7 separate regions of the Homo sapiens genome follow, and all the other regions are linked to region 7. The links come from fine-mapping of genetic effects on gene expression. A gene starts in region 7. Each other region holds a variant in brackets. All regions are shown on one strand. Distances are from middle to middle.

What was found. PIP is the estimated chance that this variant, and not a neighbour inherited with it, causes the effect.
Region 1: its variant is fine-mapped to the expression of TDRP in whole blood (INTERVAL, PIP above 0.99).
Region 2: its variant is fine-mapped to the expression of TDRP in whole blood (TOPMed, PIP above 0.99).
Region 3: its variant is fine-mapped to the expression of TDRP in whole blood (TOPMed, PIP 0.97).
Region 4: its variant is fine-mapped to the expression of TDRP in lung (TOPMed, PIP 0.97).
Region 5: its variant is fine-mapped to the expression of TDRP in whole blood (INTERVAL, PIP 0.96).
Region 6: its variant is fine-mapped to the expression of TDRP in whole blood (TOPMed, PIP 0.98).

What each region holds. Positions count from the first base shown.
Region 1 is chr8:578,205-582,752 of GRCh38, forward strand. No RefSeq gene overlaps it. Among named protein-coding and RNA genes, the nearest start is that of TDRP, 36 kb to the left of the region's middle. RefSeq lists an enhancer at 1-210. The variant G/C (reference allele first, on the strand shown) is at 2,395.
Region 2 is chr8:592,069-596,616 of GRCh38, forward strand. No RefSeq gene overlaps it. Among named protein-coding and RNA genes, the nearest start is that of TDRP, 50 kb to the left of the region's middle. The variant T/A (reference allele first, on the strand shown) is at 2,550.
Region 3 is chr8:620,790-625,337 of GRCh38, forward strand. It overlaps a transcript of ERICH1 not described here. Among named protein-coding and RNA genes, the nearest start is that of TDRP, 78 kb to the left of the region's middle. The variant G/A (reference allele first, on the strand shown) is at 1,933.
Region 4 is chr8:442,984-446,983 of GRCh38, forward strand. All of the region lies in intron 5 of FBXO25 (F-box protein 25), which reads left to right. Among named protein-coding and RNA genes, the nearest start is that of FBXO25, 38 kb to the left of the region's middle. The variant A/G (reference allele first, on the strand shown) is at 1,997.
Region 5 is chr8:436,825-440,824 of GRCh38, forward strand. All of the region lies in intron 5 of FBXO25 (F-box protein 25), which reads left to right. Among named protein-coding and RNA genes, the nearest start is that of FBXO25, 32 kb to the left of the region's middle. The variant C/G (reference allele first, on the strand shown) is at 2,166.
Region 6 is chr8:479,404-483,951 of GRCh38, forward strand. No RefSeq gene overlaps it. Among named protein-coding and RNA genes, the nearest start is that of TDRP, 63 kb to the right of the region's middle. RefSeq lists enhancers at 1-145, 146-645. The variant C/G (reference allele first, on the strand shown) is at 2,214.
Region 7 is chr8:542,301-546,829 of GRCh38, forward strand. It overlaps TDRP (testis development related protein), which reads right to left and starts at 2,534. Exons shown (of 3, transcript NM_001384899.1): 1 at 2,350-2,534. The coding sequence starts at 2,457. RefSeq lists an enhancer at 3,513-4,013.

The sequences.
Region 1 (4,548 bases), 36 kb after region 7:
AAATTACTGTGAAAGCCACTGGGATATGTGACTGATTTTAAAGCCCAAAGTGCCACAAGCTGCCAGGATCATCCTCTGGGGCTTAACAGCTTCGTTGTGGCTATTGAAGGAAAATTGATCGTAACGAGTTGGAAAGTCACCAGATGTCCTCTATGACACTGAGCGCTGGAGACCAGGCATAGACCATGCTGGGTGCACCCCCGCCCCTGCCCTCCCACCAAACACCCCGCCAGGTTTGCTGAAGTCCACAGGAGACTGTTCAAGGCATCGTTCCAGACCCCTGTCCCTCGGCAGGTGAAGTGGCAGCACATGGCTGCCTCGCCATGAACACCCACATTTCCAGCTGTGGGTACTAAACTCAGGTAAAAATCGTTCCTCTCCCGAACTGGACCTTGCTAACAAACACATTCGCTGCCCAGACCACACTGTATCTTGAATCATGGTCCTTCCCCTCCTAGTTTTGGTCTCTTCCGTTGGAGAAGCGTGGGCCGTGTGGCCTCAAAGCGCCCCGTGGCTGGAGCAGTTAGAAACAGCCACTGTGGCTCCGTGGTTGCCATCGCCCTGCACTTCCTCAGGGTCCTTCGTGAGGCGACCGAAGGCCTCTGATGGGCACAGGGCTGTGGAGTGCAGCAGACACTAATGGAAATGGGATTGGCAAAGACACAGGACAGCAGCCCGTGGAATGCAGCTCTAACCCAAGCGACCTTGAGCTCTGATGCTGCTGGCACAGCCGCTCCTCTCAGGGAGCAGCTACCGAGCCTCAGAAGAGCATCTGCCACAGCCCCAAGCAGAGACTCCAGCAAGGAGAGTGGATCCATGGGGCCCTGTGGCCCTGGCAGTGTGGACAATGACTCAGCTCAAGACATGGGTCTGCTTGGGACCCCTCCCTCCATGGTGTGGACGCTACTTCCCCACAGCACATGGGACCAAGGACATGACGGTGCCAGGTACCTTGGTGCCATGCACCGAACGCTGTGTCCCTCACCTGGTCCCTGGTTGGGAGCATGGACTTGGCATCTCTATGTCCCCGCTGAAGGGATATAAGCCCCAGAGTGACCGGGCCATGTCTGGTCGGGGCCAGGTGATGGCTTCCTCATGACACCAGCATGCCGGCTCACGTGTGCTTGAGTGCCAGAGTCGGCTCCCAGAGGGCCCAGGACTCAGTACCACCCCCAGCACGGAGCCCAGCTGGGCACAGGTGATGGAGGTGCCCTCCGGTGACATGAGTGGCAGTGCCATTGAGGGTCTCAACATGCCAGTCAGCATGGCGGGGGTCACTCAGGCATAGCGTGTCAGTTGTGGGGAGGCTCCGTCCATAGATGCACTGCCTGAGGCCCGTCAGGCATGGTGGTCCTGGTCCTGTGTGTTTACTCCTCCTGTCTGAGGGCCACTCAGGGCACTCCGTGGTGCTCCCCAGAAGCCTCTCCTCACTTGCTGGTGCAGCCTCACCTGGGCTGCCTGTACTCCCTCCTCATGTCTCAGTCCCTGTGTGCTTGGCCCTGTGCTCACCTGTGCTCCTGTCAACACTGCAGGCTGGGAACTCAGTGTCCCATTCGCTGCCTGGTCACCCACATCCCAGGCTAAGTGCAGGTTCAGGAAGCGTTTGATGAGTGGCTTTGCAGTGTTCGTGCCTGGGTGTGTTGTGAGCAGCACTGGGCTCTCAACTCCACTGTCTTCTAACTCTGTTCTCTCCATTCCGCTTGGCGTATCTGTCCGTGGTGCTGTGGGAGCCTGCAGGTTGCCTCTCACTGCTGCGGGGGACCCGCTTGCCACGCGGCACCTGCCCATGCTTCCCACCTGACCGCCGCCCACATGCCGGATGTGCTGCCGCTCCACTGTGCTCACCAGCATTCAGGGCTTGACTTTACGGGCTTTTCAAGACACGTGGGTGTAAAGTGGTGTCTCACTGTTTTCATCTGCATTTCTCTCCTTTGCAGTAACTTTGAGGTTATGAGCACACACATGGTGCTTGTGTCTCTTGAACTGGCTTCCTGTGGTGGCTATCAAATGACCACGGATGCAGTGGCTTAAACACACACACTTATCTTCTCCCGCAGTTCTGGGGTCAGAAGTCTGAACGTGGGTCGGGAGGGGGGCGTTCCTTCCGGAGGCTCCAGGAAGAGCTGACTTCCTCACCTTTCCCAGCTCCCAGAGGCCCCACATTCCTGGGTGAGGCCCCACGTTCCTGGGCAAGGCCCCTGCCTCCCTCTGCAACGGCCCCAGGAACAGCCCGAGGCCCATCCGGATCAACCAGGCTCCTTTCCTCTCCAGGCACCCACCCAGAACCTCCGCAAAGGCCCTTGTGCCCTGACTCATCTCCACAGCTTCTGGGAGCAGGGACCCAGCAGCTCCGGGAGGGTCACATCTCACCACAGATACTCATCCATAGCACTC[G/C]TACATCCTTCTGTTGGGTTTCCTGCTTCTTGATGACTTGCAGGAACTCCTTGTATATTTTAAATATAATCCTGGTTGTCTGAAACACTGTAAGTATTTTCCCCCTGCATGGATGGGTTTATGAACTCTGCCTACCATAGACTTCACTGAGTGGAAATTATTAATGTTGACATAAAATTCTATCTTTTTTTTTAACCTTATGGATGCTGCTTTGGGATTCTTGTTTGAAAAAATATTTCCCAACCTACAAAGATCCTTACTTTTATTGTCCTTGTCTGTTTTTAAAAAAATATTTTTTAATTTTTTTAAAATTTGGAGATGGGGTCTATGTTGCCCAACCTGCTCTCAAACTCCTAGGCTCACATGATCCTCCCATCTTGGCCTCCCAAAATGTTGGGATTACAGGCATGAGCCACTGTACCCGGCTCCCAGTTTCATTTTTATTATTTAAGAAATTAACCTATCTGGAATCTACCTTTGCTTAAATGTTGTAATGTAGGACCAGTTTTATCCACATTGTGATTTTCTAAATACCGCTGGCCAAACTGTCATTCTCCCATTGTCCTGTAATGTCCTCTTCATCATTTACGTGGATCTACTTTGAACCCTCCTTTCCCTTCATCTACGAAGATGTTCCTACATCAGTACTATAGTTAATTTTTAAAAATTCATCATTAAAATTTTAATATATAACAGAAGAGAGTAGTATAAATAACCCATGTGTCCGTCTGCAGCCTCAACGATAATCGGTCTCTAATCTTTTGATGCCATGGCTGTGTACTGTGGCTTGTTATTGGTAGGTTATTTTCCTGCCTTGATCTCCAATGAAAGAGTTACTACATCTACTAATAGGCATTTTTGCTTTCATGTGCATCTTAGAACAAATTTATTGAAGTCATCAAAAAATCCAGCTAGAAGATGAATATTCATAGTTTGAAACACTTATAGCAATAAAAAAGAATGAGTGAAAATTGATTAATTAAGCATCAAACTCAACAATTAGAAACAACACAGCAAAATTAACTGAAGGAAACCAGAAGGAAGGAGCTAAGAGAGAAGCACAGGCTAATACAGTAGGAAAAAAGATAACAGGTAGACTAACAAACAAATTAGAAAGCCGATTCTTTGAAAAATAAAGCAAGATAAATTGATAGATAATGTTGCCAAGAATACAAGGTGAAAAAGCACAAGTATACAAAATAAGGAATGATGAGGTAAAAATAACAAGGAAACAGATGAAATTAAAAGCATCATGAGACCACCTGCTCAACGCTATTCAAATCAGCTTGAAATCCTAGAAAAATGGACGATCTTCTAAGAAAATATGGACCAAATGGATCTCAAAAGAGACGGAAAATCTAAGTTAGTCACTTTATTTTAAAAAAGAGGTGCTCACCACCGACACCCAGAAGCAACAGGTGCAAACATTTTTATGGGAGAATTGTAACAAACTTTAAATAGCGGATAATTCCAATAATTTAAAAAACTCTTCCAGAACAACGGAAAAGAACGTAAACCTCCAATTTTTTTTCTACACAGCGAATAACATTAGTGACCAAAACCTGAAAAGACTGCACCAAAAAGAAAACTACAAGTCGTCCCCAATCTCACCTATACATATCAATAAAAACGTAAATAAAATATAGTCTGTTATGGAGAATGGTCTAAGCAATAAATAAATACATAAAGAGAAAAAGAAAAATGTAGAAATACAGTAGCACATTTAAAATAGTGCAAGGTGATCAAGGAATGGCAGGATGGTTCTAAAATAGAGTATCTATTATTACAATTTATCATATTAATAATTCTGAGAAGAAATTACATCATCTTCAGAATTGTGGTAAACATATTTTTAAAACATTCCTTAATACTGAATAAAATGAGATAAATATTTACTATTAAAAACATATCTAATATGAAATATTAATTTGCTTGTTGGTTAGTACTTTCACTGGAATCAAGAAAAACCAAAAATACCCAGTACCAGCACTATTGAATAACATTATACTGGAGGCATCAGTGCATGAAATTAGATAAAAGAAACAACATAGAGCATACAAATTAGAAAGGAGGAGATAAGGTTGTTTACCAGTACTAAGACTGTATGTTGACATTTTCAATAGGGTACAAGACCATTCCATGGGGAAAGAATAA
Region 2 (4,548 bases), 50 kb after region 7:
GCCAAGGAACTGTGATGGAACACACTCATGAAGAACAAAGCCGTGGAGGTCACAGCAGCAGGCAGCCAGGTCTGGAGGAGATGCATGGGAGCCAGACATCCGCATGCAAGCGAGGAGGGCGCCCCCAGGAGTTCACAATTTATTTGTCAGCATGAAAAATCCCATCTGGAAAGGCAGTGACACAGAGCAGTAACTAACAAGGACAAAAAAGGGTCAAATAAGGAAAAAAGCCAAATGTATCTTTTCTGAAATCTCTCCCAAAATCTTGAGAGGAGGCTACATTTGTGGTACATAATAACAGATTATCTCTCTTTCTCCTCCTCCTCTTTCTGTCTCTCTGTCTCTCTCACACAGGCTACTCCCGAGGCTCTGCACCCAGCTGCTCCCCTCAGCACGTAGCCCTGAAGCCCAGTCAGCTTCTCCGATGCTGTTAGCTTCTCTCCTCTGCTCAGTACGTTTTATCTCCACCAGCGCAGCAGGGCCTGACCCATTGCAGTGTTGGGAACTTTAAGGTTTCAGGTTCATATCTGGTGCCAAAATTCACAGGATGAGGTTGTCTTTAAAGTCTTTCCTGGCTCTCATATTTTATGAGTCAGTTCTACGATTTTGGAGACAGGAGATATCCCGAACGAAAGCAGAGAGAACAAGGGTTGTAATCTATCTGGGTTTGAGAGGGAGAAGAGGAAAGAGTACTGCAGAGGAGGATAAAAGAACATAAGCCAGGAGCGCGCGGCGGTGCCTGTGGTCCCAGCTACCCTGGCGGCTGAGGCAGTAGTCAGCAGAGATCACGCAACTGCACTCCAGCCCGGGCAGCAGACCAAGACCCTGTCTCAAAAAGTAAATAAATAAAAAGGAACACATTGGAGGCTGGAATGTCCTGGGCACCTTGACTCTAGACCTGCCAGAGCACTGTGATAGGAGGGCAGTGAGGGGAGCGCTGTGAGGGGGGAGCTCTGTGAGGGGAGCGCTGTGAGGGAACGCGGGGAGGGATGTGAGGGAGCGCTGCGCCAGAGCGCTGTGAGGGGAGCACTGTGAGGGGAGGGATGTGAGGGGGGCGCTGTGAGGGGAGCTCTGTGAAGGGAGCGCTATGCCAGAGCGCTGTGAGGGGAGCACTGTGAGGGGAGGGATGTGAGGGGAGCTCTGTGAGGGGAGGGATGTGAAGGGGGCGCTGTGAGGGGAGCTCTGTGAGGGGAGGGATGTGAGGGGGGGCCCTGTGAAGGGAGGGATGTGAACAAGTGCTGTGAGGGGAGCGCCGTGAGCGGAGACATGTGGGGGGAGCGCCCTGACGGGAAGGATGTGAGGGGGGCCCAGTGAGGGGAGGGATGTGAGGGGAGCGCCATGAGTGGAAGGATGTGAGGGGAGTGCCGTGAGCAGAAGGAAGTGAGGGGGCACTGTGAGGGGAGAGATGTGAGGGGAGCGCCCTGAGGGGAGGGATGTGAGAGGGGCGCTGTGAGGGGAGCGCCACGAGGGGAAGGATGTGAGAGGAGTGCCATGAGCAGAAGGATGTGAAGGGGCGCTGTGAGGGGAGAGATGTGAGGGGAGCCCCTGAGAGGAGGGATGTGAGAGGGGCACTATGAGGGGAGGGATGTGAGGGGAGCGCTGTGAGGGGAGCGTCGTGAGGGGAGCGCCGTGAGGGGAGCGCCGTGAGGGGAAGGATGTGAGGGGAGTGCCGTGAGCAGAAGGATGTGAGGGGGTCGCTGTGAGGGGAGAGATGTGAGTGGAGCGCCGTGAGGGGAGAGATGTGAGGGGAGCACTGTGCCAGAGTGCTGTGACGGGAGCACTGTGAGGGGACTGTTGTGAGGGGAGCACCGTGAGGAGAGGGATGTGAGGGGGGCGCTGTGAGGAAAGGGATGTGAGCAAACATTGTGAGGGGAGCACCGTGAGGGGAGAGATGTGAAGGGAGCGCCCTGAGGGGAGGGATGTGAAGGGGGCGCTGTGAGGGGAGGGATGTGAGTGAGTACTGTGAGGAGAGCTCAGTGAGGGGACGTTTTAAGCACAACTCCTTGGTTTCACCTTCATCATTCTCTCCCTTCTTCCTCCACACAGGCCTGGCACTGGCATGGGTTGCTGAGAAGGCCCCTGAAGCAGCATTTCATCACCACCATGGCCTCCAAGAGAGCGGTGCCTCCTATGAGCCCTAGAGTGCAGGTTCTCCAAGGGCCACTGAGGCCCTGAGAACCTTCCTCTGCTCACCGTCAAGGTCAGCCGGGACCTCGGAAACTGGTGTTCCTCACTCTCCCTCTCATGTAAACACCTCTGGCTGACCTGGTCGTGGGAGCAGGCTCGGACCTGTGAGGCCAGGCAAGGGTCCCTGGTGAGAAGGGCCTGTTCACCTCCCCTGCCTCCTGCCAGTCACTGTGGTTCTCTCCGGGGTCATCATGGAAGTCTCCTTCTTGGTTCTTCGTCAGCCAAGAGTGACAGGAACAAGAACAACAAGAGGACCTCGTGCAAGGAGCTCCTGATGCCTTCCCCAGTCCATTTGTCCACCCCTTGGGTGGCTCAGACTCAAGCTGCTCTTCTCTCTACGTCTGCTCCTAAACACTGGGGGG[T/A]CATCACTCAAGGATAAGGGCTTTTTTTTTTTTTAACCAACAATATCTTTGCTCTAAAGCAAAGCAGGGCTAAGGATGGAGAGACAGAGACCTCCCATCTTTGCTCCTTCACCTGTCAATCAAAAGGGCAATAAAGTGATTGAAAAGGCATAAAAACAAAGCTCAGAGAGGAGAAGACAGGAAGACTCGGCCAGGAGGGAGGACTGAGCAATCTCAGGTAAAGCAGGAACAGGGAAGCCCAGCTACCACCCAGGGGATCTGCGCCAGACTCAGGAAACCTCAGAAGTCAGGGGTGTCAAGGAGCCCGGGTGATTGTGAGGCACCTCAGGCATGCAGGGGCAGCTGGGCAGTGAGGGTGGAGGACACCTTGCTGAGAGGGGTGAGTGGAGCCCCCCTGTGGAGAGTGGGATACCTCACCCACCTTCCAAGCTCCCAGAATGTCAAAGGCCAGGCTCATACCCCCAGGCAGGAGGTCAAAGAATTAAAGGACCTCTCTCTTGGCTGTGGAGGGAAAATCTACAAATGCAGTCTTTGGACTTAGGAGTCCCCAGTGGAAGAACTGGGCCATCTCCACTGCTGTGAGGTGAGGGCCACTCGTAAGCAAGCCCCCATACGCCTCCTACAGCTGTTGGGCCTTGGCTGCAGAGCTGTTGGGCACTTGGCTGCAGAGCTGTTATCAGCCAGGGTCCCAGCAGGAAATCCATGACACGCTCAAGCTTGGTAAATCGAGAAAAGTTTAATTAAGGAACTGCTATTGAAAAGCAATAATCAAAAAAGAACTAATGGCAAACGTGCAGGCAGTCTTGGAATACCATGGGAGAGCTGCAGTGCCCTGCCACCAGCACAAACTCCAGTCTTGAAGGACATGCCTGAGCAGTTAGTGGAACCCAGGAAGGCCACAGGACAGCAGGGATGCCCAGCAAGGCCTTCAGGAGAGGGATGCAGATGACTGGAGGAAACCTCTATGGGAAAGAGCCCGGCTGCATCTCCTCCCCACACACCATCCACTCCCATTGGAAGCACATGTGGCTGCTTCCTGCATGTGAGTGGGTTGGGGTGGGGGGTCTGTGTGGAGGATGCAGGCCAGAGACCCAGGGAGACCCTAACATGACACAGACCCAGAGAGAAACCTGGAGGAAGCCGAGTGGATGGAGGGAGTAGGACGCAGACAAACCTATGATATTCGCAGAGAAACAGGGTGGCCGTGAAATAAGAGCAGACACCGCAAAACTACACACAGAATCTTTCAATTAAAAGTAGAATAGACATAAATAATTTAATAGAAATGTTGAATATTAGACTCATTTACATCTCACAGAAACAGAATAAAAAGATGCACAGATGAAGAATTAGGGAGGAATGAAAAAAGAAATAGAGAATCAACCCAGAAATTCCAATACCCACTTAATGAGAAGAGAGACCAGAGAGGTCAGACAGGAGAGACCAGCAAAGAAATAACTCAAACAAGTGGTCCAGAACTGCAGACAGGAGCCCAGATTGAGAGAGTAGCGCATGCATGAAAGAACAGAGTAAAAACACCTGTGTCATCCACATCCTCATTGCTGAGACACTTCAGGCAGAGCTCACCAGCAGCCCAGGGGCCAGAGCCACAGGCCCCAGCACTCTCGTGGCAGAACTGGAATGGCTGAGACCTCCCTACAGAACGCTGGAGTCTGCAGGGCGGGAAGTGAAGCCTTCTCAGTTCTGAGAGACATTTCTTGCAGCCTAGAATCCTGGTCCCAGAAAGAAAAGGTCAAGGAGAGAATGGCGACGTCTCCAGACATTGCAGGTCTCAAAGGGTTCCTTCCACACAGGGTAACTCAGGCAGCCCTGAAGGTGAGGAGCAGGGAGACACAGGGAAATGTGGCCAGAGCCTTAGGAGCTGAGGCAGTGGGGGCCTCAGGGACGCCATGGCTGGACCTTCGATGTGCCTGATCGTCCAAGGGTCTTTCTTATTTCCGTTAGGAAGTATGTGGCTAGAACAGTGGTCCCTTCCTAG
Region 3 (4,548 bases), 78 kb after region 7:
CTGGTGAAATTGAAGGGAGAAGTAGACAATTTAACAATGGTTTTTACAGACTTCAATACCCCACTTTTAATTATTTATAGAATGAATAGGCAGAAGATCCACACAGAAATAAAAACTTAAATAAACTTAGATTTAACCAGCATCTACAGAACACTTCACCAAAAACAGCAGAATACATATTCTCAAGTACACATAAAACGTTCTCCACGACTGACAATATGGTGCATACACCATAAAATAAACTCGAATACCTTTAAATAGGATTGAAATCATAAAGTATATTGTCTGAGCACAATAGACTTAAATTAAAAATCAGTAATAGGAAGAAACTTGGGAAATTCACAAATATGTGAAAATTAAACAATACACTCCTAAATAACTAATGGATGAAAGAAGAAATTACAAGGGAAATTAGAAAAAAACTTGAGAAGGATGAAAATAAAAGCACATCATGCCAATATTTATAGACTGCAGCTAAAGCAGTGCCCAGAGGAAAAGTTATAGCTATACATGCTTATATTAAAAAAGACACTCTCAAATCAATAACCTTTCTACCTTAAGACACTAGAAAAATTTCTCACAACAAAAGATAAGTGTGTGATGTGATGGATATGTTAATTAGCTTGATATAACCATTTAACAAGGTATACATGTATCAAACATCACACAGTAAATATATGTAATTTTTGTCAACTATATGTTAATAAAAATTTTTTAAATAATTAAAATAATTAAATAATTAAAAAGAGAAAGGAGATAGAGAAGAGCAAACTAAAAACCAGCAGAAGAAAGGAAATAATCAAGATTAGAGCAGAAATAACTGACACAGAGAATAGAAAAACAATAGAGAAATCAACAAGACCAATGGTTAGTTCTTTGAAAAGACTGACAAAACGACAATCCTTTAGAAAGACTACGAAAGAAAGAGAGGGACTAAATTACCAAAGTTAGAAATGGAAGGGAGGACATCTTATAAAATAATGACCTTATAAAAGTAAAAAAGGATTATAAGTGAATAATATCAACAATTATGAGCCAACAAAGTTAAATACAATTCCTAGAAAAACATAAACTACCCAAACCAACTCAAAAGGAAATATATCTAAAACAATTAGAGATTAAATAATGTTAAAACTTCCTTGTGGCTGAGTGTGGTGGCTCATGCCTGTAATCCCAGCACGTTGGGAGGCCAAGGCATGACGATCCCTTGAGGCCAGTAGTTTGAGACCAGCCTGGACAACACAGTGACAACACCTCTACAGAAAATAAAAATGAAAAAAATTAACCAAGCGTGGTGGCATGTGCACCTGTAGTCTTAGCTACTTGGGAGACTGTGGCAGGAGGACTATTTGATCCCAGGAGTTTGAGATTACAGTGGCCTAAGATTGTGCCACTGTACTCCATCCTGGGTGACAGAGCAAGATTCTGTCTCAGAAAAATAAAAATAAATAAATAAATTCCTTGCTATGGTCTGAATGTTTGTATCCACCCCCCATTTATATGTTGAAACTCAATCAGCAAAAGGTGATGTTATTAGGAGGTGGGGCCTTTGGAGAGTGACTAGGTCATGAGGGCCCTGTGAAAATGAATAGGATTAATGCTTTTATAAAAGAGGCCCCCAAGAACTGCCTTCCCTTCTGCTACGTTGAGGATGCAGTGAGAAGACACCATATCTATGAAGCAGAGAACGAAGCTTTTCTAGATACTAAATCTGGTGGTGACGTGATCTTGGACTGTCCAGCCTCCAGAACTGTGACCAATAAATTCTGCTGTTTATAAAGCACCCAGTCTGAGGTATTTTGATATCACAGTCCAAACAGACTACCCTTGAAAACCCAAGCCAGACAGCTTCACTAGCAAATTCTATCAGACATTTAAAAAGGCAGGGCACAGTGGCTCACACCTGTAATCCCAGAACTTTGGGAGGCTGAG[G/A]TGGGAGGATCACTTGAGCCCAGGAGTTTCAGACCAGCCTTGGCAACATAGTGAGACCGTGTCTCTATAAAAAAATTTTTTTAAAAAATAGCCAGGTGTAGTGGTGCACACCTGTGGTCCCAGCAGCTCAGGATGCTGAGGTGGAAGGATTGCTTGAGCCCAGGAATTCAAGGCTGCAGTGAGCCATGATTGTACCACTGTACTCCAACCTGGGCAACAGAGGAGATCCGCTCTCAATAAATAAATAAATAAATAAATAAATAAAACATCAATACTAATCAATACCAATACTGTCAATACCAATCCTACCAAAAAAACAGAAGAGGGTTTAACACTTCCCAACTCATTTTATAGAACAGTATGACGAGAGATAAAACAGGCAAAGATATCAAAAGAAAACTACAGACTAATATTCCTTATGAATATAGACACAAACACTAGCAAACAACTTAAAACAATGCATAAATGGAATTACACACCATGAGTAAATGGAATTTATCCTAGGAATTCAAGGGTGGTTTGGCAACAATCAATGTAATAGACACCATATGAATAAAGTACAAAAACCATGTGGCTTCCCAATAGACGCAGGAAAGAAATTTGAGGAAACTCAACACCCTTTCATAATAAAAGGATGCTCAACAAACTAGAAATCGAAGGAAACCTCCTCAGCCTGATGCTTATGTTTATGGTCAATTGATTTTCAACAAGAATACTATAACAACTCAAAAGGGAAAGAATAGTCTTCTATTTTTTAATTTAAAAATTTTTGTTTTTTCCAGGTTTATTGAGGTATCAATGATAAAAATTGTATATATTTAGGTTATACAATAGGATGTTTTCATATATGTGTAGATTGTGAAATAATTACCACAATAAAGCTAATCAGCACATCTATCACCTCACAGAATTACCATTTTGTGTGCATGAAGAACAGTCATTTAAATAAATGATGCTGGAACAAGTGGACTTCATGCAAAAACATGAAGTTGAACCCCTTTCTTGCACTACACTAACACAAAGACTAACTCAAAATGGACCACAGACCTTAGTGTCATAACTGAAACTATAAAACTGTCTGAAGAAAACACAGGTATAAGTCTTCATGACCTTGGATCAGACCATGGTCTCTTAGATATGAACCAAAAGCACTAGTAATGGAAGAAAAAAGTAGATAAATTGGCTACATTAAAATTAAAACTTTTTTGTTGCAAATGATACCACTAATAAAGAAGACAACATACAGAATGGGAGAAAATATTTGCAAATCATATATCTAATCTAACGAGGGACTAATATCCAAAATAAATAAATAACTTTTACAACTCAATAATAAAAAACCCAACTGCAGATTAGTGAAGGATTTGAATAGACATGGTTTTAAAGAAGTCATGCAAATGGCCAATGAGCGCACGCAAAGATGTTCAACTTCATTATCCACCAAGAAAATGCAAATCGAAACCACAATGAGACATCAGCTCAAACCTGTGAGGATGGCTAGATGAGAAAGATAGATGATGTAAAGATTGGAGAGGATGTGAAGATATCGGAACCACTGAGATGAGGAACCAAGGAAATGCATACTTTCCTGATAAGGATGTGAGATGGTGCAACCATGTGGAACACAGTCCAGCAATTTCCCAAAAAGGTGAACACAGAGTCACCACACGAACCTGCAGTTCTACTCCTAGGCACAGACCCAAGAGAAACAAAAACACATTCACGCCAAAGCTTGTACGTGATTGCTCACAGCACAGTCTGTATCAGTCCTTTCTTGAACTGCTATAAAGAACTACCTAAGACTGGGTAATTTCTAAAGAAAAGATGTTCAATTGGCTCACAGTTCTGCAGGCTGTACAGGAAGCATGGCTGGGGAGGTCTCAGGAAAGTCACAATCCTGGCAGAAGGTAAAGGGGAAGCAGGCACGTCTTGCATGGCTGGAGCAGGAGGAAGAGAGTAAAGGGGGAGGCGCTACACACTTTTTTTTTTATATTTTTTATTTTTATTTTTATTTTTATTTTGTTTGAGACAGTCTCGCTCTGTCACCCAGGCCGGACTGCAGTGGCACGATCTCGGCTCACTGCAAGCTCTGCCTCCCGGGTTCACGCCATTCTCCTGCCTCAGCCTCCAGAGTAGCTGGGACTACAGGTGCCCGCCACCATGCCTGGCTAATTTTTTGTATTTTTAGTAGAGACGGGGTTTCACCGTGTTAGCCAGGATGGTCTTGATCTCCTGACCTCGTGATCCGCTTGCCTCGGCCACCCAAAGTCCTGGGATTACAGGCGTGAGCCACTGCACCCGGCCTACACACTTTTAAACACTCAGGCTTCCTGAGAACTCACTGCCACAAGAACAGCGAGGTGGATTCCACGCCCATGATCCAATCACTCCCACCAGCTCCCTCCTCCAACATCGGAGATTACAATTCTACATGAGATTTGGGTGGGGACACGAATCCGAACCATATCAGAGTCATTCACAATCACCCAAAAGCAGAAACAACCCAAATGCTTCCTATCCGATGAATAGATAAATAAAGCATGATCTACTCAAACAATGGAATAGTAGCCACAAAAAGGAAAGCAGTGGTTTATGCTGCAGCAGGAATAAACCCTG
Region 4 (4,000 bases), 100 kb before region 7:
CGCTCCTGAGAACAGATTTGTTAAAGAAGGTCCAAGAAATGACAGTGTTGTCACCACTCAGAAATGGCCATTTCCATTGAAGGAAGTGCTCCTCAGCTCCGCTGAGAGTCTGACCTCAGTTGAATTAAATTTGACCTTGTAACTGATGTTTTTAAGAAAAATTGAACATAGATTGCTGACGACGGTGGATAGGTGGTGTCAGGGCAGTTTGAGCACACTGGGAATATAAGGCTCCTCATTATACGGCATGCCAAAAAAAGTTTGTCCTCCAGGCAAGTATCCGAATTATATTGGAAGTTTGAAATGCCGGTATTGATAATAGTCTGCAAATATCCACTACCATCTTCATTTTTCTTTAATTCTCACCATATTTATCCTACCAACAAGATAATTTGTAGAGTATGACTAAACACAGCAACTAAGAATGCTTTTACCAAAATAAAATTATAAGTTGTGTAACAGTTTAGTTTCAGATAAAAAAGCAGACGTTCTTTCTGCCAGTGCTAGAAGTCAGTGAACATTTGACAGAGTCAAAATGGTTCCCAAGAAAAGCAGAGAAAAGGGACAACCCCAAAAATAGAATGACTTCTCACAGACCACTGCTTGAGCAACTTGTGAGCTGTAGGAGGGGCGCTGGTTCCTAAGCCTGAAGTGGAGGGCATGTTTTAATCCAGCCTGCATGAGGTTGTAGTGTGGTGCTTCCCTACCTCGGGGCAGCGGTGGGCGGGCAGTCCACACATTGCTAAAGGACCTGAGGAAAGTGGCTGGAGCGTCCAGAAAATTGATGAAAACTACAAAGTCTGCTTGGTTCTGCTTTGGCTTGCTAGATTACATCCCTTTTTTGTAAAAGACAATAAACTTGAGAAGTCTTTTTAAAATTAGATAATCAAAGTTGAGATCACTGAGGGCTGTGTCCAGCACACAGGCTAGCTGGGAAGCAGCAGAGCAGGAAGGCACAAGCACAGATTGTGGGATCCCCCTGCTCTTCAGGTCTGGCCCCTCCCTCCTCAGTGCTGTGGCCTTGGGGCCAGCTTCTTCATCTCTCCCTGCCTCAGTTTTCTCATCTCTAGAGCAGGGATAATAGTAAGACCTACCTCACAGGGGCATTACAGCATTGAAAGGGCATCAGGTACTTCAGATGGTGCCTTTCTAATAATCACTCAGTAAATGCTTACAGTTCATTATAAATCTGAAGGAACCCAAAGGCGAAGATTGAGCAAAGTTGATTTGGTCTGCCCAGTGAAGAATACTTTCTGTATTTTGTAGTAAGGCTGACTTTAAAAATAGAGGTAGTGGATGTTGTTGTTTCTCTTTCTCTGCCCTTCCCCATGTATGTGAGGCCCTTCAGGAGCACAGGCACACATGCAGTGCCAATTTACTCCCAGATCCAAGGGTGTTCAGGAGTGGACCTCGAATTTCAAATAGCTGTGATTTTATTTAACTTTATTGGATTCTAGTTTTATTATATTACCACCAGAGAGTTTGGCCTTTAAGATCTCTAATTCTTTGAAATGATTAAGTTTTCCTTTGTGGCCTTCTTTATAATTGATTTTTATAAATATTCTATTGATGTGTGAAAAAAAATACAGATTCTCTATTTGAAGGATGTACTTTCTTTCTCTTTATCTAATTCTTCCACATCTTTACTTGTTTAGAATTGTCAGATTTGAGGAGATACGCAGTCATGCACTACATAACGATGTTTTGGTCAATGACCGACCGCGTGTAGTGTCGTGGCCACATAAGATTATTTCCTTTTTTTACTGTACCTTTCCTATGTTTAGATATATTTAGATATACAGATACTTGCCATTATGTTACAGTTGCTGTTCAGTGCATTAATATGTTGTATAGGTCTGTAGCCTAGCTGTGTAGGTGTTGTGTAATACACTCTGTGATGTTCACACAGTGAGGAAATTACCTAGCAATGCGTTTCTCGGATCAGATTGTATCCCCCTTGTTAAGCGACCCATGACTGTATAAAAAACTTCCTACA[A/G]TATTTGTGTTTTTAACAAATGTTCATTAAATTCCCAACAGACTTTGCTTTATGGCTAATTAGAGGCTTATGAATGATTACAGTTTCTTTGTTAATTGTCTTTCGCCCTGTTATCTTAATTACCAGTTTAACCTGAAATGTAATCTTGTCAACTGTGAACACGGCCCTTCTCACCTCTATGCTTACCTATGCCTCGTGATGTCCATTCTGTAGTCCTCTGTGGGTAACTAGTCTAAACTGACCGTGCTAAGCTAATCCCTTGCCTTCTGCTGCTGATTTCAGTCTTTTTAAAAGGAATTTTAAAACATGATATTAAAGAAATGTAGAAAACTTATTTCGATGATAGGAGGGGAGGTAGTCGGGAAGACCTTATCTCCCAGGGAACACATATTCTCTGTTCTGGTATTTCTTCCCCTAGTGGAGCAGCAGTTCCAAACCCAAATGTTGTCTCAGGGGTCCTTTTCACTTTTTAAAATTACTGAGGACCCCAAAGAGATTTTGGTCATGTGAGTTATATCTATTAATGTTTGCCACATTAGAAATTAAAACACTTTTAAAAATATTTCTCCATTTATTTAAAAGTAAGGACTGGGCTGGGTGCAGTGGCTCACGCCTATAATCCCAGCACTTTGGGAGGCCGAGGTGGGCGGATCACCTGAGATCAGGAGTTTGAGACCAGCCTGGCCAACATGGTGAAACCTGTCTCTACTAAAAATACAGAACTTAGCCAGGCATACAGAAAACTACCGGGCATGGTGGCATGCACCTATAATGCCAGCTACTGGGGAAGCTGAGGCTAGAGAATCGCTTGAACCCAGGAAGCAGAGGTTGCAGTGAGCCGAGATCGCGCCATTGCACTCCAGCCTGGGGGACAAGAGTGAAACTCCGTCTCACAAAACAAAACAAAAAAACAGTAAGGACTGTATGTCTCACACCTTGGCACCCTCCTGGTGTCTGGTGTGATGGAGGGGATTATTCCTCATCTCTGCTCCTGAGTTCAGTCTTCCATAATGTAGCATGTCGGACTGTATGTCTCACACCTTGGCACACCCTCCTGGTGTCTGGTGGGATGGAGGGGATTATTCCTCATCTCTCCTGAGTTCAGTCTTCTGTAATGTAGCATGCTGGGGCCTCTGGAGCACTTCACTGCACACTAACGAATGTGAGGATGGAAAAGGAAAATCATATCTTAGTGAAACTGTGGAAATAGTTTAGACCTCGGGCTCCCCTAACAGGCCCCTAGACGATGCTTTGGGAACCGTGGTGGTAGAACTCTCTCTCCCAGACTCACTCTGCCCTGACCCCTCTTATTGGTGAGAAACAGGCATGTGTAACTCTTCTTTTTCCTTTGAGGAATAAAAGATATTTGTACATTTTGGTCTGTTTCTTTCATGTCTTAGTGCTGTAGGGCAAGAAGCCTATCTGGGGAGGCTTTGGTTATTAAGCAGTGCTTACGGCTGGCTGGCTTCATCTCAGTCTAGGATTCAGATTAGGAAATCCATTGTTGTGTGAATCTGAATCGCATCCGCCAGTCCAGCTATTATTAGCGATAATGCTGATAACCTCAGTTGGCCTGAATCCTTTGTCTCTAAATTGATTCTAAAGTGAGGCAGGGAAAAGGGGTGCTATTCAACACTAAAACAAGGAATTTAATAACAATATTCAGTTAATTTGAAAAGATAAAGGAACAGGATTGAAATTTTAACATTGGTCTTCTCAGCTTTGCTTGGCCTAACCTGATCTTATCTCTGGCCAGTGCCCTCAACTGGTGTGTTTTAGTGTAAGATATTTTTATGTAAATATGTTAGAAATCACAGAATGTTTTTTCCCCCAAAGATTATCATGTAATTGTCACATTTATAATGTTATTTGTGGCTCAGTATGTGACTTAGTGATTTCTCATTCTGGAAATCAAGAAAGGCTGGAAGGAGAATTGGAAGGAAGGGATGAAAAAACTCCATTTTCAGAGAAATAAGAGGCAGATGCAATTCACAGACTCTAAAA
Region 5 (4,000 bases), 110 kb before region 7:
AGCAATTCTTGACCATCTGTCTACATAAAAGGATTTAATTCTTGGTGTGAGTGAGAGAGTAGGATGGAGCACAGGAGGAAGTCGTTGGCTCCTGGTGGTTTCTGTGCTGGGTGCCCTGCTGTCTCATCTTTGGTCACTGACTCTGGAGAAGGTGCGAGTATTCTGTGCTTTGTCAGAGGGGGCATCCATAGACCAGGACCAGCATTTTATCAGTTTCAGTCATTTGGACGACTGCATAATTTTTTTTTTGTCTGTGTACCACATACTACTATAATTTGCTGGGTAGCTTTTCTTCAAATTTACTTTTCTAAACAGAAATACCTACTTTAGCCTCATCCTAAACACTAATACCTGTGAAATGGTAAATTTTCTGTCGGTCATTTGTCTAATACATATAAATGCATAACTATAAAAATTAAAATGTGCTGTGCACTCATGTACCAACTAAGCTTACTTTGCAACCCTCTTGAGAAGGGCTGTGTTTCTCCAAAGCACCTCTCAGATGTGGAGCGAGGGAACTGGTGAGCTCAGGAAGCAAAAGGGCTGCAGTGTTGCATGGCTGTCCCAGCACCCTCACAGGTCTGTGCATCTCTGTTGATTGCTGCCTTCCAAGCAGGGCCTTGCTTGGCTCATCTGTGCTCCTGCTCTGTGGGAATCCCACCTTCCCTCTCCTGAAGTCGCTCTGGACCTTGCACACCATTCTTCACAAGTCCAGCAAAGTTACCTCTAAAAAGTGATTTGCTCATGCTTACCTTCTGCTAAAAACAAAAACAAGAAGCAGCCTTTGTGACTGTGGTAAAGCCTGAGCCTGTGTCTTGCCTTGGATTGGGCTCCTCCATGTCCCCATCCCAATTCTTAACCTCCCTGGCCCATGCCCAGTGCCCTCTTCTGTTGGCTTTCTTTCAGTGTGTGCTATTTTTTTTTTTTTTTTACTTTATCGTATGCATTTATCATACATACTGTGCAGGTATTTGGTATTTTTTTGCTGTTTTAAATGTTTATGGCAACACTTACTACAACAACTGAGAGGATTGTCTTGTAGTTCTACTAAATAATTTGATTTTCCATAATTTAGTCTAAGTTGTCCATAATGTCACTCAGTATTATTAGAATACCTATAAATAAGAAATGTAGAAGCATTTTTTTAAAATGCTTGATAAAAGGTTTCCTTTTTTTCTAATGGCATTTAGTAATATCTGCCCTTAAGAATTTGTGTGAAAAACTTAATGTGTATCTTTTTTTTTTTTTTAGATGGAGTCTCACTCTGTTGCCCAGGGTGGAGTGCAGTGGCACGATCTCTGCTCACTGCAACCTCTGATTCCTGGGTTCCAGTGATTCTCCTGCCTCAGCCTCCTGAGTAGCTGGGATTACAGGCATGCACCACGATGCCTGGCTAATTCTTTTTTGTATTTTTAGTAGAGATGGGGTTTCGCCATTTTGGCCAGGCTCGTCTTGAACTCCTGACCTCAAGTGATCCACCTGCCTCGGCCTCCCAAAGTGCTAGGATTACAGGTGTGAGCCACCATGCCCAGCCTGTATCTTTCAACTAATGTTTTATGTAAAATCATTTTTTCCATCTAAACAGCAATTTTAAACTGAGACTAATCAATAATTACTACACAGTCTTAGGATAAAAGTTAGTAGTAGAATTTAGTGTTCAATTACAGATTCTTCCAGTTGCCAAAATAAAGTTAAGTAGTTTGGAATGGAAGTTTCGTTTTTACTCTAATCTTTGAAGTTGAGTTTGAGCCAGATGTCCTGTTGGAGGCATAAAATGGCCCCACCTTTTGTTCACTGTCCAGGGGCAGATGCTCTTCACTCAAGGCAGGAGGAGCCCATCAGTGCTGGCATCGCTGAGCACCTCCTGTGTGCAGATCAACGTACCTTGGCTTTTCTAACTTTCAAGAAACTTTGAAATCCAGTTCTAGTCACACTCCCACCATGAAATCTTCTTTGCCAGTGATCACAGGGTTGTGGCAATACCAACTCAAGCCTACCTGGCTGGGACCTTGGCCTCACCGCCCCCATCATGTCAGCAGCATTCCCTGGCCCTTAGGTGTGCCAGTGGCCACGTGTTTAAGTTGTCTGCGTCCCCATCCCAGTTGAGCCCCAGGAGCAGGGGCTTGGTTTGTTCACTGCTGTTCACCCACTGCTGAAAACAACAC[C/G]CCCTTTGTCAAAGTGGAGTAAGTGTGTCCCAACTGCAGTGAGGAGCTGCACTTCCATGAACTCAGAGGTGCCCAGCAAACCCAGGACAGCTGTAAACACAGAGAGGGAGACCAGTACCCAAAAGCTGTCTGGAGGAAGTAGAACTGGGTCCTGATCCTATAGGTTAATGTGACTGTGGTTTTTACACATTTGTTATCATTCCCTTGGAGTCCTGGGCTTGCTTATAGCACTGAGAAGAACAGCCTGCCCCCTCGCCCCTCTGGCAGCCAGGAGGTGGCTTCTGACAGCCAGGCACGAACAGCCCGAGGCTTGGGAGGTCCATGCAGGGCAGTGCACGGCGTGAAAGCTTCCTGAAAGCTGCACGGTGTGCAACTGAAATTTATAAAAATGTTAAATATGCTCTGTTTCCTAAAGTACACACATCTGTAGGAAAAAAGTTTTCAGAATCGTAAAGTTTATATATCTAATTTTGGTTATTTGATAAATTATCTGAAGTACTTCATTCTCTGCCTGTGGTGGACCAATTAGATAGCACATCCAGTGTCACATACTTCCAGGGGTACTGTATTTTTAGTTTAGTTTCTTGCCATCATTTATTTTTATGTTTTCATTTGCTTTAGATGTAGGCGAAGAGTCGGTCTCTCTTATCTTTATTCAAAAGTTTCTGTGTCCCTGGGCATTGCTCTGCCCCTCCAAGACTCCCCAGTCCTGTTTCCTTTAGCCCACCTGCTCCTCATGTCTGGAGATGGACTCCTGCTTCTCAGTATCCCAAGGATCTCTTAAATGTGGAAAGGTGGCCAGGTGCGGTGACTCATGCCTGCAATCCCAGCACTTTGGGAGGCTGAGGCAGGAGGATAACTTGAGCCCAGGAGTTTGAGGCCAGCCTGGGCAACATAGGGAGACCCTGTTTTTACAAATAATAATAAGCAAATAAGGAAAGACATCTCAGGCTAGAATCTCTGGCTATATGAAGATTTTTTTTCAAATTTTTTCATAATTTCTACTAATGACTACTCCATAGTAGCAACTTAATAGCAGCAGCCTCACAGCAGCGCATGGGAAAGATGCTTAGTGAGTGACCCTGAGCCCTCCCAGGCGGGGACTCGAGGGTGAGGCAGGGAGGGAGAGAGGCTCTGCAGCCACACAGCCGTTGTTGGAATTCTGTCTCTTTCTTATTTATTTACTCAGGGATCTCAAGCATATGACTTCATCATCACATCCATAGTATCTGGTAGATTTTAGCATCTACCTCAGAGCACTGTTAGAAAGATTAGATTAGTTCCATCATAGGAAGCTCTTGGAACAGTCTGTACTCTGTGTTAGCCACTATTTTGATTTTCTTTTGAGGAGGATTTAGGCAGAGGGATGACAGCTGCATGGAGATCCATTTATGACCCAAGAGGTAAAGACAAGAAAATGGGGCCCAGAGAGATGGGCTGAAGGTCACAATGGAGTCAAGGACAGAGACCAAAAACGTAGCTGTCCTGACAGCCGTGAAGAGCTTTTTCATTACGACTTTATTTCCTAAGTCTATAAACTTTGATTTTCCTCTGATGTAAATTAAGTGACTTTCTTAAATGCGTCATATGACTTTTTTTTAAATTTTTTAAATTATACTTTAAGTTCTGGTATACATGTGCTCAATGTGCAGGTTTGTTACATAGGTATACACATGCCATGGTGGTTTGCTGCACCCATCAACCCGTCATCTACATTAGGTATTTCTCCTAATGCTATCTGTCCCCTAGCCCCCCACCCCCCGACAGGCCCTGGTGTGTGATGTTCCCCTCCCTGTGCCCATGTGTTCTCATTGTTCAGCTCCCACTTATGAATA
Region 6 (4,548 bases), 63 kb before region 7:
TCACCTGCTGGTGTGAGAGCAGACGAGGCTGCAGCCACATCAACCCTGGCTCTCCTATGTAACATTCACTCAGGACTGCCCGTGCCCCTCCAACGGGCTCAGCGCCATTCATGTTGCTTATCTGTTAACCTCTTCCCCAAACCCTGCTCTTCCAGCAGACGGCGCACACACTGTGCCACACGTGTGGCTGAAAGGATAGCCATGCGTGGGGATAGCCGGAGGTGCGGTCGCTCCCCAATTACTACATTTTCCCTCTAAAAACTTAAGTGTCACATTTCAAAACACCAGCTTCTTTAGCAAACCGGTTTTTCTGTACATAACCCAGACAGGCACCTCTCTGGGGCCCCCATGTCTACACAGAGTTGGGCACTGCCCTGGACTCTCATCTACCTGATGGACAGCTGGTGCAACTTTATCAGCTGTCAGCCTTAAATGAAGAGGCTCAGAAAATACGGGGAAGTGTCTAGCACATTCAAGCACACATTTTGAGGATGGCCACCTGGGGGATGGGCTCTACACAAACAGGGTCAGCGTTCCACAGTGGAAAGTTAAGGCTTCACTCATATAGGCAGGAGCCGAGATATCGCAGAGTCTTGCCGTTTTCCACAGACCAGTGTGTGCGCTATGGCAATATGACCCATTACAGATGGCTGCACTCCACAAAGTGAGGAGCAGTGATCTCAGGGGCCTCATCTCTGATGCATTTGGTCGTTTATAGGGAAAGAAAGGCAGAGGTTGCAGCTGTATGCTCCGTGGCTCCAGCTGCATAGCTGCATTCCTTCCAAGACTCAATATTTTTTGAGTGCTTTTTTAAATTTTAGTTTCAGGGGGCACATGTGCCCCTTTGCTACATGGGTATGTTGCATGGTGTGGGGTCTGGGTTACTTTTGAACTCATCACCCAAACAGCGAATGTAGTGCTCAATAGGTAGCTTTTCAACCCTTGTCCCCTTTCTCCTTCCCTCCTCCCTTTTGGAGGCCAGAGTAAAGTTCCAATGGCTTGAAGTTTGAATTAAGTTTGACTTACTGAGTTTCACACAGCTTTATAACCAAAGGTCACACAATCATGCTACCCCTTAGTGAGGAAAGCAAGGGGCTCTGTAGCATCTTGGCTGTTATGTGAGCCACGTGCACTAATGCAGCCTTCATTCAAGCTCTCCTCTCCTTCCTCCTCAATTCAGCATCTACCGAGGGGAAGGCGATGGTCTGTGACACAGGTCACACTTAACAGGATCCCTGTAGCATGGAAACAGAGCAGTGTCGTCTGATCTCAAGGTGGTTAGGATGTTTCCAATTCCCATGCAAATTTTTTTACTAGTTCCTCCCACAAAGCTGCTTACATTTGCAGGCGGGTTGGGGGGTGGAATCAAATGGTCTCACCTGCATTTTCACTGCTATGACCTCTTTTCTGGATCTGAGAGGGAGTACAGCAGGTACCTGTCCCAGGTGGCGGGCCACATCCCTGGCTCTCTGCTTGCAGAAGAGGTGCCAGGACACAGCCCTCGAGAAGCGTAGAGAGGGCACAACTGAGAGATGCTTAAGGAATAAGGGGAGCCAGGTTAAAGATCCAGTTGTTACCACCTGAGCCTAATGTTACCACTAATGGTGGATGTCAGACACTATGTGGCCCTGCTGTGCACAGGGGCCCAGGAGCTGCCCCGAAAGGAAGCAGCAGCTTGGATTAACCGAGCCTTTAGATCCAATTTCTTGTTTGTAGGCAGTGCTAAGGATGGAGGAGTGAGTTGAACACCTCAAACAGCAGTGTGTTCAGGAAAAGCTGCGAGGGAAGGGAGACAGGGGGCTCCTGTTTCCAACATCAAAAGATTTCAGAGATAGAACAGCCATATATGATGCACGATCATGGTTTTGGGAAAAAACAGCTAAAAGGTACATTCCAGACAATTGGGAACATATATATATGTATTAGATGATACAGGAAATTAATTTTGTTAGGTGTGCCAATCATATTTACTTATGCAGGCAGCATCATTTTTTTTTTTTAGAAATATATGTTGAAGTACTTGGGGGTGATACGGTGTCCGTAATTTACTTTTAAATGGTTAAATATATGTATGGACACACAAAGCAAATATGACAAATACAACCATTATTGAATCGCAGTAGCTGAGTTTATGGATGTCCATTGTACTACATACTTTTGCATAGATTTTATTTTTCATCATAAAAAAATTTAAAAACTGAAATGCTTGTCAA[C/G]CCCCCCATCTCGAAAAAGCCAAATTGAAATACACCTGGTTAATTATGAGAATTAACCACTATCTGAGGATTAAGTGTGATTTGTTTCCCTTCCTTCATCCCACTGGCCTCAGGAATGGAAAATACTTTAAAGGGAGAAAAAACTCAAACTGTGACCATGAGCCTCCACCCCATCCTGTCCTGTCTGCTTCTTGTGTCAGAGCCACTAAGGGAAAAATCACTAAGTTGTCACAATGGCTGGGTGCAGTGGCCTACAACCCAGCACTTCGGGAGACTGAGGCAGGAGGATCACTTGAGCCCAGGAGTTGGAGGTTGTACTGAGCCCTGATCATGCCACTGCATTCCAGTCTGGGTGACAGAGCAGGACCCTGTCTCTAAAAAGGTTTTTTAATAAAAACAAAAAATAAATGGTCACACATTCCTAAGATGCATTAGGCTTTGCTGGGAGATGGCCCTTCTAGTTCACCATTGAGCTTAGCATTTGCTGCTGTTAAAATTAGAATAACCTTTATTCAGGATGTGCTCCTCCAAGATGAAACGGATGTCCGATTCTGGGAGCCGGAGGAACACGCTGCAATGCACTTTCAGACTCTGCAAGGAAGAGTGGGCAGGCACACAGAATCTCAGGAAGACGGTTCAGGGCGGCGGGGACATTCATCATGTGTTTACCGTCGGCTCTGACAGCCCGGCTTGAAGCTTCCTTCTAAGGATAGAGACTGAGCAGAGACTCCATGTGTCCTGGGCCTCAGTGGATAAAATTAGAATATGCAGGAGCCTGGGCAAATGAACCTATGACCCTGGGCAGCTGGCAGACTTTAAAAGCGAATTCCAGGTACAAGTCTGTTTTTTTAAACATCTGCCCAAGGCTGCCATGGACCAAATTCCTAAAGATACCTTGTTGCCCTAGAAATGTCTCCAAAACTCAATACCCCACTAGTTTTCCTACTCTGTCTAGAGACTTGGCTCCCCCCTCCCCCAATTACATGACCTTCTTCCATCAAATCCACTCTCCACACAATGAAGAAAACAGCACCTAATTCTGATGAAAACGTCTGGCCATGGGACAAAGCCCCGCAGGGCCCAGCTTTGGCCTTAATGGAAGGCGGGGTTAGGGGTATGACACTAGCCCCCCGCAAGAGCTCTGCTTCACCTCACACAACCAACCTGGTCCTCACTCTGGGTGAGGTAGAAATGTCACTGGCTCTACTTCCTGTTGATATGGGGACATTGATCCTCTCTAGGGTTGAGAACCAGGATTTAGACCGAGAAATTGACTTTATGGCGTCAAGGGAGAAACAAGCAAGAGAAGAGCAGAAAATGAACAAAATGAACAGGAGGGGACCACAATGGACAGTGGTTCACAGATGAGGGCCTGTTTCAGAAGAAAGAAGAAGCCTCTTGGGGGTGGCACACAGGTGAGAAGAGCCATGGGTCAGGGCACCAAGGAGCCAGCCAGGTGAGCAGGACTCTTGGCGGCACAGGTGCCCCAGGATCTGCAAGAGGATTCTATGAAAGCGCATGCTTAAAGACGCTGCAGGTGAGCCTGCCCGAGAACACCTCCCACACGAGTTGCCCCACGCTCCCCAGGTTTGGCCCCTCCACTGGCTGTTCGGCAGTTCCAGCCCTGAAGCCCCTCGCCCCTCCTCACAGGGCCTCCCACCATCCGCAACCCTGTCCTCACCCACCAGCTTCCTCAGCAAGCAATTCTTTAAAGTGAATCAATTTTAAAGAGTATTAAGAATGTTATAGCATAGATAGCACTCGCGTTACAAAAATGAGAAATCCAAGAACTGAAGTTCAGAAGGCCCACACCAACCACACCCCCCGACTTTTCTCATGTAAACGGGAGGGCATTTCAGAACCCCACTGGCACATGCTGCCAGGGCAGGGCTCCTCCCTTCTGCTTCCAGTGCCTTCTGCTCCCTGGGCCCAGTGCTCAGCCATGGAAGGAGCCAGTGCAGCTGTCACACGGGCATCTCCTGTGGGCATCTTGTGAGGGGGGCTGTCATGCGGTGGCTGCACAGGAAGCAGCCGTGGTATCTGGGGCTGGGTGGCAGCCGGCACGGGACCCAAACCTGGGCCCTACAAACCCTGGGGACCATGTCCCAGTGGAAGCACCACCCTGGGCCAAGACCCTGAAACACTAGAGAAGCTTTGGGAAGGTGCTTTCATGTAGAATGGAGGGAGACAAAGTGGCTTCCTGGCACTTGGGTGGGAGGTGGCAGGGGCTGCATGCAGAGCTGGGATGCAGGCCTGAAAGCTGCATCTCCTCCACCAAGAGCACCCCAGACCCCGACCTCAGCAGCAGGCAAGGGTTGGGGAGGATGTGCCTTCA
Region 7 (4,529 bases):
ACTACAATGGTGGGCAAACGTCAGTACACATTTGTCCAAACCACAGAATGCACAACGAGTGAGCCCTCCCAGGTGAGGACCATGAGCCCGTGTAGGTCCACAGATTGTAACAAACGCACCATTCTGTGGGGGTGATGATAGTGGGGGGCTGGGGATCCATGAGAACTCTCTGTACTTTCTCCTCAAATTTGCTGGGCACCTAAAACTGGATACCTGAAAAATAGAGTCTATTAAAGTTTTTTCCCCCCAAAACCAACACACACTTTAGATGTACAGATAACAGGCCAGGCGCGGTGGCTCACGCCTGTAATCCCAGCACTTCAGAAGGCCGAGGAGGGCAGATCACCTGAGATCATGAGTTCGAGACCAGCCTGACCAACATGGACAACTCTGTCTCTACTAAAAATACAAAATTAGCCAGGCGTGGTGACACATGCTCGTAATCCCAGCTACTCAAGAGGCTGAGGCAGGAGAATCACTTGAACCCGGGAGGGTGCAGTGAGCTGAGATCACGCCACTGCACCCCACCCTGGGCGACAAGAGCGAAACTTCATCTCAAAAAAAAAAAAAAAAAAGTATAGATGACAATTGTGTAAAGGGAAAATCAGAAAAGGAGCTTTAACGAAGGCACTGCCAGCAATTGAATCTAGCTGGAGGATACGAGGAAGAATCTCCTATTCTTCTACTTTTCCGCATGTTAGAAATTTTTCAAAGTAAGAACTTAAGGCCAGGCGTGGTGACTCACGCCTGTGATCCTAGTACCTTGGGAGGCTGAGGCGGGCGGATCACGTGAGCCCAGGAGTTTCAGATCTGCCTGGACAACATAGCAAGACCCCATTTCCACAAAAACGGTTTTTTAAAATTAGCCAGGTGAGGTGGTGCGCACTTGTAGTCCCAGCTACTACAGAGGCTGAGAGAGGAGAATAGCTTGAGCCCAGGCAGGTTGAGGCCGTAGTGAGCCGAGATTGCGCCACTGCACTCCAGCCTAGTAAACGGGGCAAGACCCTGTCTCAAAATAAAAAATAAAAACTTAAGAAAAAAAAGTGGGTTTCAGGATTCATTAGGAAAAATGGGAGAACATAGGAAGACTCAGTTTAAAATTCTCAAGGCTCTATCCAGAAACAATAATATGGCTCATCTTTGACCAATATTAGTTATTTGTAGCTTCTGCAGTTAACTCTGTAGCCACATATAAATTCTCATCATTACATTCAAGAAGAGAGCTGTTTAGAGTAACTATAACATTCTGAAATTAAAAAAAAAAAAGGCACGTAAGCACTAACGCTACCTAAAAGAAATTTCTCAGACAAGTTCAGATAGTAACCATATTTAAGCGCTTAACATAATCGGCTCCATTTTCCATGAGTTAGGAATGGAATTTAACGTTCATAGAAAATCTCTATCAAGAAGAAACAACTCCAGACCCTAAGAGAAACTCTTCTGCTCAGAAACTATTTCCAAGTCCTCGGAAGACAGGTACAAATCCTTATATTCCATTCGGCCTTAACAGCATCAGGAGGAAGTTGCCACACGTTTAACAGAAAGAGATATTTTATGATCCAGAATGCTGGATTTCTGACCTAAATTTCATTGTACATGAAAAAGAGCACTGCAATGGAAAAAGGGAGGGGGGGGGAGGGGGTGGGGGAGGGCACGTCTAAGGCACACAGGGCCCACCTGGGAGCCCTTTCAATTACAAAATTCTAGACATACCAAACATATCTCTACACTCGTCAGGTAAAGGCCTTTCAGTTTTCAGTACAAAGGACTTCTGCCGGCTTCCTTCAGAAAAATCAAGAATTTAAGAAAATACTTGTTATGCAAACAAACATTTAGCCCACTTAACATTGAGCTACGGTCGTCCAAAGCTGCTTAGTGTCCGCGAGGAGGCCGTCCGGATGCGCGATGATTCAGGCCTTCTCCGCCAGCTCCACCCGGGACGCGAGCACCCGGCGTGGACCTCTGCGTCCCGGGCCCACGACGCCCGCGCCGCGGGGTGCGCGCACTGCGTCCCCGCTCTCCTGGGACTGCGCCCCGAGTAACACGTGCAGGGGGCACTGGGTCCCCTGCAAGCGGCGAGAACGCCGGCAGCCCTGGCCAGTTAAGCGGGGAGTGGGTCCACGCGGACCACAGCGGCAACTCAGCCCAGGACGAGCCTCGGGTCAAGTTCTCCGACTCCGCACTCGGGCACCTAGCGGGCCGCGCCCCGGAGCTACGCGGCCCCAACCTCACCTGCCCGCCCAAACTGTGCCCCCAACTACCCGCACCTCCACCTGCGCGCCGCCCACCCTCGCCCTCCACCTGCGCGCCCCCGGCCTACTAGCACTCCCCACCTGCGCACCCCCTCACCTGCGCCTGGGCGGCGGCGGCGGCGGCCGGTGGCGGCCCCCCACGCAGGCCGTCCTCCTCCTCGGGGGGCTCGTCCAGCAGCACTCGGCCCCGGCCCAGCTTCCACATGGTCAGGCGGGCTCCGGCGTCCCTCCGTCCGTGCGTCGGGCTGTGGCTCCGCGTCCCTCCCGGCCGCCGGACGCTCTGCCTGCGGCTCCTGCGGGACGCGGGCCCAGTGGGCCGGGCGGGGCTAGGCGGGGGCGGGGCACCCCCAGAACTAGGCCCGCCCCCTCCCCACCAGGCCCGCCCCAAACCCTCCCCAGGACCCGGCCCGCCCCCAAACCATCCCCAGAACCAGGCCCGCTCCAAGCCCTCCTCAGGACCAGGCCCGCCCCAAACCCTTCCGAAGACCAGACCCGCCCCCAAACCTTCCCCAGGACCAGACCCACCCCCAAATTCGACGGGGCTCCGAATCCCATCCCCCACAGAAAGGTCAACCCCGGCCCCCTCCTCCCAGTGTGGTCCCCGCCACCGCCCCGGCGAGACCCTCGCCCTTCACTGTTCTACTGAACGACGTCCTCACCCCAGGCTACCCCGTCACCTGGTCCCCCCACCTTGACCCCCACCTACCCGCCCCTAGCTGCTTCCTCACCCGGAAACGCCCCCATCCTGAGCCCCCACCGAGCCCCTAGCCCTGCCCTATCCCCGGTTCCCTGGGTCCTCCTCTACCCCCGAGCCCCCACCCGGCCCCCGCAAATTCCCCTCTCCCGGTTCTCTCCTTCTCCCCCGCCGACCCCCACTTACTCCCGGACTGCCCCCTCCCCCCACCCTTTCCCAGACCCTGGCCGGAGGGCGTGGCCACGTCCGCTCGGGTCACCAAGGCAACGGCCGGGAGCGCAGTGCGCATGCGCGCCGCTGGCGCTCAGGCCGCGGCAAGGCTGAGGGGAAGGTGGAGGGGGCACAGTCCGCGGAGCGGCGCCTGTACCCCAGCGCTTCAGGGCATCCCTCGGGGCCTGGGCGCCGGGCATCCGGGACTCATCCCCTCCGGCGCCCGAGGTCGCGGGATAGTGGGGGCGCCGGGAGGAAGCCTCGCCCAGCCCTGGTGGGCGGTGGGGCCGCTGGGGCCTGGGGCGCCGCGGGCTCGGCCCGGACTGACGGCGGTGGGGGGCGGGGATGGGGCCGTGGTGCCGGGCCGCGCAGAACCCTTGGGACCCCCGCGGCGCCCAGGTTGGGGCTCAGGGCCCGGAGAACGTTTTCCCGCGTGGCTATGGCTTTGTCAGAATCAGGAGCGGGAGAGGCGCCCACAGATTCCTGAGGGCAGAACCGCCTGGTTCCCAGGCCGAAAGGAGCCGGCGAGGCGACCCCCGATCCCGGGACGGAGCCGCGGGAACGGGGGATTCTAGGCGTCCGCTCCCGCCCAGCAGGTTAATTTTTCCCGCGACGCGCTTCGTATCGCTTCTTACACCAAATATGTATTCATGTGTTCAGTCATGTAAAAGCGCATTTTGAAGGAGGATCCAGAACTATGAGCTCCCTTGAAAACTGCAAGCTTCGTAACTTTACGACTCTTAAAAAAATGAAATGTACATTTTGAGTTTCCCAGAAGTGATGAGCAGCAAAGCTTTTAAGATGAAAGGGGCTCTGAACTGCCTTTGGGAGATGCCGGCCAGGATCCCGGAGAACCGAGGGGGTGGCGCCCGTGCCCAAGGCCTGGGGGGACCTGGGGCCCTGGCGCGGGACGCACAGGGAGGGCGGGGGCTGGGCCTGGCAGGAGCCCCCAGCCGAGTGGGAAGAGCCAGATAATAACCTAACGATACTAACCTAACTATACCGTCACCCAGAGAGGAGGGCAGCACCCCTCCCACATGCCTCCCTCCCCCGGTGACCGCTAAACCTACCGGCCGCAAACATCACGAAATAGAATTAAACACTGGCGCCTACTAAGGACCACTCCACCCAGTACAAACTAAATTTGAGAGTTCATCTTCACGCAAATAATAAGAATGTTAAAAATGTATATATGCTCCTTTTCAAACAAGGCCTAATAGGCCTGGCCTCCTGGGCTAGGGGGCTTAGAAAATTGCAAATGCAAGATGGCATGGTGTGGCTCCGGGGTGCTGTCAAAATAAGCACATTGCAAGCACAAACTGATGAAAGTCAAAAACTATCAAACAGAGGTTGCAAAACAAAGTCAGGATCCA